Regions from separate parts of the Homo sapiens genome. Here region 1 is linked to region 2. The links come from fine-mapping of genetic effects on gene expression. A gene starts in region 2. The other region holds a variant in brackets. All regions are shown on one strand. Distances are from middle to middle.

What was found.
Region 1: its variant is fine-mapped to the expression of NHSL1-AS1 in whole blood (INTERVAL, PIP 0.95).

What each region holds. Positions count from the first base shown.
Region 1 is chr6:138,592,692-138,598,064 of GRCh38, forward strand. It overlaps a transcript of NHSL1 not described here. Among named protein-coding and RNA genes, the nearest start is that of NHSL1, 96 kb to the left of the region's middle. RefSeq lists enhancers at 521-815, 844-913. The variant C/T (reference allele first, on the strand shown) is at 2,622.
Region 2 is chr6:138,688,962-138,694,334 of GRCh38, forward strand. It overlaps NHSL1-AS1 (NHSL1 antisense RNA 1), which reads left to right and starts at 2,707. Exons shown (of 4, transcript NR_033896.1): 1 at 2,707-3,007. It overlaps LOC124900217 (collagen alpha-1(III) chain), which reads left to right and starts at 3,765. Exons shown (of 2, transcript XM_047419637.1): 1 at 3,765-5,373. The coding sequence starts at 3,802. The coding sequence ends at 4,731. It also overlaps a transcript of NHSL1 not described here. RefSeq lists an enhancer at 2,102-3,301 and silencers at 3,424-3,473, 3,484-3,833, 4,314-4,373, 4,414-4,553.

The sequences.
Region 1 (5,373 bases), 96 kb before region 2:
AGGTAATTGCCCTTAAGGAAAAAGGTGTGTGGATATATTTTAGTGGGCTGGTCTAAATATTTTCTAAATATCGTAAGACATATGAAACAGGGTGGCTAGGAGCTGCTATTTCAGCTTTTTAAAAGCAATTGTGATGGAGCAAAAATTTTGCCTGTAGACAATAATTAACCTTTCTCCAAAAGCATCACATATATATCATTCTATATACCAAATGCCACAGCCACAGGAAGTCAGTTGCCCACAGCCTTATAAATCAGTTTACTTGCTTCCTCATTTTCTGTTATGGACTTTCCTAGCCAAACTCTGTCATGGCAGTTCACTTCAAAATTAAAAATAAAGTTGATTTAATGGAGCCTGGATGAATCCCATCTGAAAGCCATTAAAACATACACACCCACTTCCACACAAACCAGAGAATCAGTAGAATTCAAAGACTTATTGAATCCTGAAACTGTAAAGGATCCGAGTGACAAATAATTCACATGTCCTATTAATCACAGGAGGTAGACGGGTTCTGTGATTCCAGCACTGACACGGAGGCAGTCAGGAGCACTGCTAGGACTAGAATCCCGTTGTCCTTGCCCCAGTCCAGGCTCTGCCCACTCTCCCATGCTTCAGGTCTGGCTCTGAAGTTCGTGATTCCCCGTTCATAGTCTTCAAGTACATCAGTGAGTCACGTTTCCGTTTCCTCTCACTGTTCCAAATGCTGGGCTTTGGTAGCACAGAGTTCATTCATTCACAATCATGCTAATTCACTCATACAGAGAGAGAGTGCTGACGCACTTAGGAATTATGACTTAACATGCAATTCTCAAATCAGTGAGGCCAACGGCTAACTAAACTTAAAAATAAAAGGAAATCTAGCCCTTAGCACTCAAAATACTTCCTTTCAACCTACTGTAAAACAACAAACTCACTTTCATTAGGAGATGAAAAGTGAGTCATTTCTTTCTTCCAGTAGACGGTCTCCCCAGGCACAAACTCATGCACATTATATTTCATGGGACCTTTTAAATATTTACTTGTTAGCAGTATTCTTCCTTTCGGGTCAAAGATTATAGTATTTAGCAACACAAAGAAAGCTGAGGGATAGAGTTATGAATTAGTAAACTGCTTTGCCAAGCCTTCCATTTGTTAATTCAGTCCAACTTCAAAGAGGATTTTAAAGAGAGGTTCAGCTGTCAGAAATTAACTCTAAGAAAACTGCTGAATCAAAAAGTGACTTGGGCAGTTTTTCCCAAACTGGTGTTAAGGAAAAACTGTTCAGTTGTAGGTATAGGAGCAAAAAGTATCTTCCTATGCAAATAAGCTTAGGGCAAACAAAGTTTTTAAAAGGTTTTTTGTCTTGTTCACTACAGGACTTTCCCAGCCTTTGACATGCTAATGTTGCTGTAAATTTCCAGGGATGTGGTGGGGGTCAGTTTATTTTGATCACATTAATTATGTGGTTGGGGGATGTGGATAAAATAGGAGAAATGCACTACACTGATTCAGCAGCTTCTAAGCAACAGAGAAAGGGTTTGGCTAAAGTACTAGTATTTTTGGTATTCAGTAGCAAAGAACAGTTAGACTCTCATTCACAACTATTTCAGGACAAGGTGGGAGTATCTATTCAGTCATTTGGGAGAATGAAGCTACGTAGAACTCAATCCTTGAGAGCTTAATTTACTGCCAATAGGACTGCCAATTTCGCGGGGCTTCTGCAACTCCTCCCCGGCTCTAAGCAAAAACAGCCCCTGTACCTGTTCTTGGGGACTGACGTGACATCGTTGAGTGTTTTCCCTCAACTCTTTGATCTTCATGCACTTGTCTATTTCAATGTTTTTTGACCATGGCTGTACATCAGAATCACCTAGGGAGCTTTTCACTCCACAGATGTATGGGCCCATTGCCAAATCTACAAAATACAATACGATCCCCAATAAGCAGCACCGAGAGCTGAAAACCACTCTTCTGCTTCCTAGGAAGAGCTAGACAACAGACAAATAATTGAGAGGGTGTGTACTTTAAATTGAGCACGTTGACACTGACAAGGAAAGGGCTACATAGCAAGATTTTAATGAGACCCCAAGTTTACAGATTTCTCTGTATCACTCACTCAAAAGTGGACTTTTTCTTTTCTAGATGATTTTCACAAAGAAAGAAAAATGTACTTTGAAAGGAGCAAAGTGCTTAAAACAAGGAGTGCACCACAAAATCGTTCAGGGGCCGCCTGCTGTGGTTAGCTGGCTGCTGGTTCACACGTGAGCCCAGACCCTGTTCCCCAGCACAAGCCCCATCCAGCACATGACCCTAATTTGCAACTCAACATTTCACTATATGTCTTGGACCTTTGCAAGTCACTTTAGAAATTCAAAACCAGAGATTCCCACTATGCTGAAGCCAAGCCTACTGTACAATATACATCACAGGGTGTAGGCCTCTGCAGGCCTTCTAAGTACGTCAATCACCTACAGAAGATAAAAAGTGATTTTTTGAAAACCATTTTCTTTCTAAATAATATTTACTTAAGCTATTTTATGCATACAGTCTCTAGGCAGTATATGTCAGGAAAAGGACCAGCCACTAAGAAGAGGAAGAGAGTTAAAAGTAAAGATATAGGCTGGGTACAGTGGCTCATG[C/T]CCGTAATCCTAGCACTTTGGGAGGCCAAGGCAGGAGGGTCACTTGAGGTCAGGAGTGTGAGACCAGCCTGGGCAACATAACGAGATCTTGTCTCTGCAAAAAATATTTAAAAATTAGTTGGCTGTGGTGGCAAGCACCAGTAGTCCCAGCTACTCAGGAGGCCAAGGTGGGAGGATCACTTGTGCCCCGGGAGTTCTAGGCTGCAGTAAGCTGTGATCCTGTCACTGTGCTCTAGCCTAGGCAACAGAGTGACACCCTATCTCTTTTTTTAAAACAGATATATTAAGTCTTTTTTACAAAAGTGAATTTCAATAACTTCAATATCATAGGGTAACCTGGAATCAATTATAAAAAGATTCTCTCCCTCTTTCCTTTCTTGAATTTTTTTAATCAGCAGAAAAGATATTTATGTACAATGAATGGGTAAGAATAGCACAGCATACAGGTGAAGTTGAAAGATTTCGGAAACAAAACGCTGAGTCCTATGGAGACAATGGGTAAGAGAAAGTGGAAAGTGAGGGGTCCAGAGGTTGCCATGCCACCCTTGCACCTATGTGCCACGATCTGTATAATTGGCAGAGGGACTCCAACATGGCCCGACTTTCTCCTCCTTATTATTAGCATGGTGGTGTTTCTGGGTCTCTTCCTCTCCAACACTGCCCTTCTTCCCAACCCCAAGAGAAAAAAAGGCCATAAACCCTACTTGGAAGCTAAAACCAAAAAATATCCAGGATGAAAGTATGTTTTCCTTTGCAGGTCTTATGCAAAGGAAAAGGCATAGAAAGGTAATGGTCTGAATGCCTTCCAGTAGTCAATGGTCGATCCAAGGAATGCAAAGGGGCAGAGGAGGCAGAATCTACCTCTGCCTGGCAATGGAGTAAACCTAGACACGCTGCTGAAACCCACTGGACATCAGGACTGAACAACGAAGAGGTTAAATTACCTCCCCAGGGCTCTCCCAGCATTCCATCCAGGGTTCCCATCCACCAGCACTGACGCTACTTGGCAGTTTTGAATAAACAATACAACATCTCAACTATTGTTAAACTACAATGGGAGGCCTCCAGCGTCATGTGGAAATTATTTTTAAAATGAAAGCTTTTTCATCAACTGCATGAAAAAGCACTTAATAAATCCAGAAACAGTCTAAAAGGATTATGTGGACAAGTCAAAATGTGATTTTGATGGACTAAGTGGATTGCTGAGACACATCATGACATTTAAAACCAAGTGCAGAAACTGAACTGTATTTCATTTGTTAAAACGCTTAAGATTATAAAGGAGTGATACATTTGGCAAGGTAGCCAAGGTTCTTGAAAGAATCAGCAGCGCCGCAAAAGGACATCGAGGAGCTCAATGCAGCTAATTTAAGCAGACCTGCTCCTGAGAGGTGAACCAAGCTTGGTAAGTTTTTTAAGTTCACGTCCGTTTCTCACCCACATTCAATTGGCGGGGGTGGGGGGGAAGTTCTGAAAGCTTCCATGAGATAATCCTTTAAAATAGTCTCTAGAGGCAGCGGCAGCAGCAAATTATTCATTCCTACCTTGCGTGAGTTAAGCGTGACAGAAAAACTCTCTCAAGCAGAGTTTGAAGTGCTCAGGGTTCCCGCCTTGCAATCAGAAGTTAAGACCTACCAGGAGATTGAGATCAGCCTGGCCCACGTGGCAAAACCCTGTCTCTACCAAAAAATATAAGAAATTAGCCAGGTGTGGTGGCGGATGTCTGTAATCCCAGATACTCAGGAGGCTGAGGCAGGAGAATCGCTTGAACCTGGGAGGCAGAGGCTGCAGTGAGCCAAGATCACATCACGGCACTCCAGCCTGGGCGACAGAGTGAGATTCTGTCTCAAAAAGAAAAACAAAAAGTTAAGACCTGCAAACAGCGAATAGAATACAAAAGCCTAATTCAGTGCTGGCATATGAAGCATCAATCCATAAAAATGGCTGGTTAGTTTCCGAAGTTTTGATCTGGTGTCATATAGCCTAAAGAACAAAGAATTTACAGGAAATGATTTTAGGAGCCTGGAAATTTTAATTCCATCTCAGATACTGTTATTTCCTTTTAATAGTAAAATCTACGTAACTATTGATTTGACAAGTTTTTCATTTGGCTGCCTGTGCTATTAATCATCACGGAACTTTAGTCCAAAATTCAAATCAAACATCACCATACACGCCTCACTTCCAGGTCCCGGGTACATGTTGTTCGTTTCTGGTTATTCTAGTGTAGACTCCTTGCTTACTTTGGAATTTTGGCAGGAATTGTTCACCATTTCTGAAAAATCATATCACTGACCACCTAACCGCTTGTAGTGTTTGAGTCACTAGCTTTTCATCATGGTAATTCCACACACATGTAAGCATCCAACGGTTTCATTCCATCTTCCAGTAAGTACAGTTTTGTGTGAGCAATGAATATGAAAAGGTAAAAATGGCCTTCTTTAATTTCTCCTTACATTGCAGGTAGGACATTATATTGACTTTTTAAGCATGCATGAATAGATGTATTATATTGGCTATGTGATACTCATTTCAGGGTAGAAAAAAGATAATAAAAATATTTCTTATGACTGAGAAGCACTGACCTACAGGTTATGCCAGCACTTCCCCAGTGACGATGATAATGTCATCAGTGACCTTGATGATGATTTCCAGCAGAGAAGGCGGTGCAGGTGAAACTGTCCCCCACCTTAAAAATCAGCTTTTGGCAGGGCACAGTGGCTCATGCTTATAATCCCAGCACTCTCGGAGG
Region 2 (5,373 bases):
TACTTGTACTTAGTATTGTATTTAGTACTGTATTTTTAGTAGGGACGGGGTTTCAACATATTGGCCAGGCTAGTCTTGAGCTCCTGGCCTCAACTGATCCACCTGCCTCAAAAGATCCATCCTCCTTCCTCCCTAAGGTTTTTATAGTTATTCTTCCTGACAGTAAGCACTAAGTCACTAAGTATTAATTCAATTCAAACATCTATTGAGCTATCACATCCAGGCATTGTTCTAAGCTCTAGAAAAACAAAGACTCGGCCATCCTGGACCTCAAAGGTCCTGCTGTCTGGCAGAGGGGTGCAGAAGTCCCCTTGGTAAATGTGGTGATCGAGGTGAACCAATGCCATGGGAACAGCCCCTCAACCTGGGGGTGTCAGGGAAAGAAAGTAGGAGTCTTCAATGAACAGAATAATAACATGCATTCTCCCCAAGGCATGACAAAAAATTATTTTGGATAACTTTCTACCCATGAGATTTTGAGGAATGGCAAACTTGATGAAATACCTCTCAGGATCATTGAGGCCAGCAGGGCCAGCCCACAGGACTAAAATACTGTCTCTGTATTGCAAAGAGTGTTTATACATTTTTTTAAATTGTTCCACTGACATTCTCACATCCTTTCTTATGGTAGAAAGCTATTATTGGTCACTGAAATATGCTGTCCCCAACTGCTAGAGGCTTTTGGTAAACTGCTGGATTCTGTTAATTGCTCCTGGGGAGACTCATTAAATGGTTTATCTGACAAGAAGGGTGGAATTAACGGTCACAGTTATCCTTAGGACTGTTTAAGGAACATATCTAAACTTTGCTCCCCATTTCCACACCTTTTTTTTTTTTGAGACAGTCTCGCTAATTTTTGTATTTTTGGTAGAGACGGGGTTTCGCCATGTTGGCCAGGCTGATCTTGAACTCCTAGCCTCAAATGATCCGCCCACCTTGGTCTCCCAAAGTGCTGGGATTACAGGCATGAGCCACTGTGCCTGGCTCCACACTCTTCTAAAGGGAAGGAACACAGGCAGTGGGACGACAGGCGAGACAATCAGAAGGTTTGGGCTTCAGGCCCGGATGTGTCATTACCCACAGCCTAACCTGGGGTGAATTAACTGCAATGCTGTTGGACTGGATTTCCTCTCTGGGTAAGAATTCACGAAATGGATGGCCTTTACGGTCAATTCCAAGTCTAAAAGTCTAGCCATCCATACTAATGGAGTATGATATTCTGAAGACCTGCCTAAAATGGCAGAACAACTTCAAACTGTAGTTTTTACACAGAAACAAGGTTTGAGGCATTGTTTTAAAAGAATCCTAACAGATGGTAATGCATAGGCATTTCACTGCTTTTAAGCACATAAAAAAGCAAAGTGTGTGAAGGTGAAAGAAACCACAAAAATTAATGTCTTGATAGTCAGCTTTCTTCTCTACATGTACATTTATACTCAGGCATAATTATATTCAATAAAAAGCCTTCTTGCATGATTATTAAAAAAAAAAAAATGGGGCCACGTGTGGTAGCTCACACCTGTAATCCCAGCACTTTGGGAGGTCGAGGCAGGTGGATCGCCTGAGGTTGGGAGTTAAAGACCAGCCTGACAAACATGGCGAAACCCTGTCTCTACTAAAAATACAAAAATTAGCCGGGCGTGGTGGCGGGCGCCTGTAATCCCAGGTACTCTAGAGGCTGAGGCAGGAGGATTGCTTGAACCCAGGAGGCGGAGGGTGCAGTGAGCTGAGATTGCACCACAGCACTCCAGCCTGGAAGACAGGTATGAAATCACAACCACTTAAGATTCAAACAAACTTGTGAAAAGTTTTGAAAAGAGTTATTTCAGTTACTGTAATTAGAACAACCTTAGTTAATATGGAGAATTTGGGGGATTTCTGGCTATGGACAGTAGCCTATTGGGGCATATGTACTAAAGAACAGAGAAAAGTGATACATTTAAATGTAAAACCAAACTAGTAAAGGAAGGAGTTCTTGACCTTCAGGGAGTTTCCTCTTGTTTTTTAATTCCCACAATAGATCAGTTCACCTATCAATCAGATCTCCCTCATCACATTCTTTGTCAAGGGTAAAATTCTGGTTCTCCCACGTACCTACACCCTAGACAGAAAACGCATAGAAGCAACTCGTGATTGCCGCATAGACCATGACATCCTACTAGGACAGTGTATCCTACCATATGCATGAAGTCATCACTCACATTAAGTAGATATATTCTGATTATGTCAACAACCTTATGAGATCACTTTGATTCCTCCCCACTGATTTTTTTTTCTTGGAGGGGGACGCTCTCCCAGGTTGGGAACTGTCCACAATTCATATGAATGTGTTGACGGCACAATCAAAGAGATGAACGCAAAAATGTAAAACTGCCACGAATTAATTATACAACTTGGAGAAAGATGTATTATAGCAAGCAATCTCACTGAAATTAAATAATTGAAAATTTTGAACTCTTAGGCTGTAAGGTAGTTAAAATATAGCTAAGTTTTTCTAGCTAGCTGGAAAACGAGCTATTCGAGATTGCATATGAAGTGATTCTAGGAGAAAAAACTATTTCATCCAGAGCTGCTGAAATCTAGGCGTGTGTTACATCAACATCTCCCCTCCCACCCAGCAATCCATCAACCATCTCCAATTTATTCTTTACACTTAGGATTATGACCAAGTTCACGTACTTAAAAGGGAGAAACCACAGAGACATCACACTGAAAGTTTCTCTGCTTTGGGCCAGCAGGAAATTCCAGTTGCTTCATTCACCGGAGCCAGTTAAGCTGCTGAAATGAAATGGATCACCGGAGAGATCACTATATCAGGACATAGACTTGACTTTCAGGGTTGGAGGAAGCCGGACAAAGATGAATGGGATTCAGAGCCTGAACTCAAGGTCAACGTCTTCTGAATCACAAAGAGCTGGTGGGTCAGTCTGGGAGAAGAAAGAAAATTCTGCGCCAAATGGGAAAACCCTTAAAGTCTGCATAGTTTTGCTTGTCGGTAAGAACACAGGTAGGCGGCGGGAAGAGAGGTGGCAAGCAGCCCCAACGCTCGCCGAGATCCCCAGGGTTTTACAAACGGATCGTCCTGAAGTCTCCAAAACTGTAACTACTATATGCCCAAATTTATATTCTCCCCTGGCTTTTCCAACAGGCTACCTGCCTGTGACAGTTTTCCCACGAACTTGGCTCTCCTCTGTCTACAGCGCCCCGGGGTCTCCCAAACAGACAGACACAGACAGACAGAAGGAGCAGACAAGGGGACTGTCCAATTCCCACCCTCCGCGCCCACTCTCTCGAGGTAGCCAAGACCCTCCAGGAGTCCGAAAGTCACAGAGCGCTCTGCGCCCCTGCCACCTGCCCAGCCTCCCGCTGGGGTCCGGCAGTCCCCACTGGAGACCCCGACATCGCGGGGCTCCGCGGCCCCCGCGCCGACCCAGGGCCGCCAGGGGGCGGGCGGGAGCAGCTCTCCGGGTGCCTCCCCCGCCGGTTCCCCTCCCCCGGCCCGCCGGCCACTCACGGATTTTCACTCGGCGGTGGTCCAGGCGCGCAGCGGCGGCTTGCAGGGCGTCGAGGCGGCGGTGCAGCGCGGCGGTGCGGTGGCCCAGCGCGGCCGCCTGGCCCTCGAGCTCGCCGAAGATGTCCCCGGCGCAGCGCGACAGGTCGGCCAGCTGCGCCAGCAGGCAGCCCAGGGCATGCGAGCTGACCTGCTCCAGCGAGCGGAAGAGTGGCGCGCCCGCAGCCCCGGCCCCCGCCGCCTCGGGCCGGCGCAGCCGCGCGGGCTCCAGGGTCCTCTGGTGGAAGGGCATGGCGGGGGCGGGCCGGCGGCGCGGGATCCCTCAGTCTGCCTCCCGTCGGCGCGGGGCGCCAGCCTGCATCCAACACAAAGGAAGTCCCGGGCAGCGGCGGGGCGCCGAGGGAAGCCTGGCGGCCCCTGCCCGCAGGGGAGAGGCCGGGCGGGCAGGAAGGACGGACGGACGGACGGGCGCGCGGGCGAGCGGGCACCCGGGCGGCGCGGGGCAGGAATGGGGTCCGAGCCGTGGCTGCCTGGCGCCCGGCGGCGTTCCTCCACCCGCAGGGCTTCGCGGGCCGCGCGGCGAGAGGAAGTTCCAGGGGCAGCTCTGGGCGGCGGCGGCCGCGGCGGCGAGGGGAGCCGCGAGTCCCGCTGAAGTTTGCAGGCGGGCAGGAAAGCGCCGGCTGCTCCTTCCCTCCCTCCGGATTGGAGAGGGAGGAGGAAGCGAGGGAAGTGCCGCCGACACCGGGCGAGAGGGAGGGGAGGCGAAAGAAAGGAAAGGGGGAGGAGAAAAGGGCCGGCCCGGGAACCACCTGCGGCTCCCGCGGCTGCCGCGCCCAGCGCCCGCAGCCAGTGGCGGCCCCGGCGCCTCAGCGCACCCTGTCGGGGCGGGTGCGGGCGCACAGTCCCGGGACGCCCACGTCGCCGCCCCAACTCCCCTTGGCAGCCCCCGGGCGGTGGGGCAGAGCCCTCGCCCGCCCCCCGGGCCGGGGTGCAGCGCAGTGCGGGCGCCGGGAGGGCGGAGGCGCCAGGACGGCCGCGGCCAGCTCCGCTCGCTCTGCTCACCTGCGCCCCTGCCCACGGCGCTCCGCAGTCAGGAGCGCCCCGCCCCGCGGGGAACGCCCCGGGCCCCTCGGGGTCCCCCTGCTCTCTCCTACTTCCCTTCTGGAAGGTGGCCAACACTTCTGGGCCGCCCGGGTGGACCTCAAATAGAACGTCTTTAAATGTCCGGTGGCCAAGGGTTCTGTAGCCGACTAGGAGTCAGCGTCCGACTCGGAACAACTCAAGACCTCTTTTCAGGGGGCGTCCAGTGAGTTTTTTTCAGCAAGGTGACTCCCCCTGTGGCTGCCTGCTACTACAGCTGGAAAGGTCCAAGCTGAAATGTGACTAATCTGAGTTTCTTCCACCAAGCATGTTAGTTAGGGGTGGAGGACTAGAACCTAGAACCCTGAATTCGAGCCTGGAAGATATGTAAGCCACATGCTATTGAGATCGTGGTCATGGGACACCCGCTAACACAAACCTTCTGGTAGGAAGTTTTTGAGAAGACTGGGTCCAATATCCCCAAGCTAAAATCCCACTGGCCCATCGCTGTGTTTGCTCAGAAAAGGAATCTGGGTTCTTTGGTTTCTGCTTTCCAGTTGACCCTGGTTGCTCCTCTGTTTTACGGCATTTTGGGAGTCGGTCTCCCAGAGCAGCGCTGATTGTAATGAGAAGCGCGTTCCCTCTCTGGGGGACAGGAGCAGTGGGAGAAAAATGGGCCTGGGAAAGAGCTCCTCCAAATAAAACTTATTAGACAGATACGGGTTATGGTGTTGGTGGTGGTGGTGGTGGTGTTTTGGTCTTTATCCTGTTGTACAGCGCCT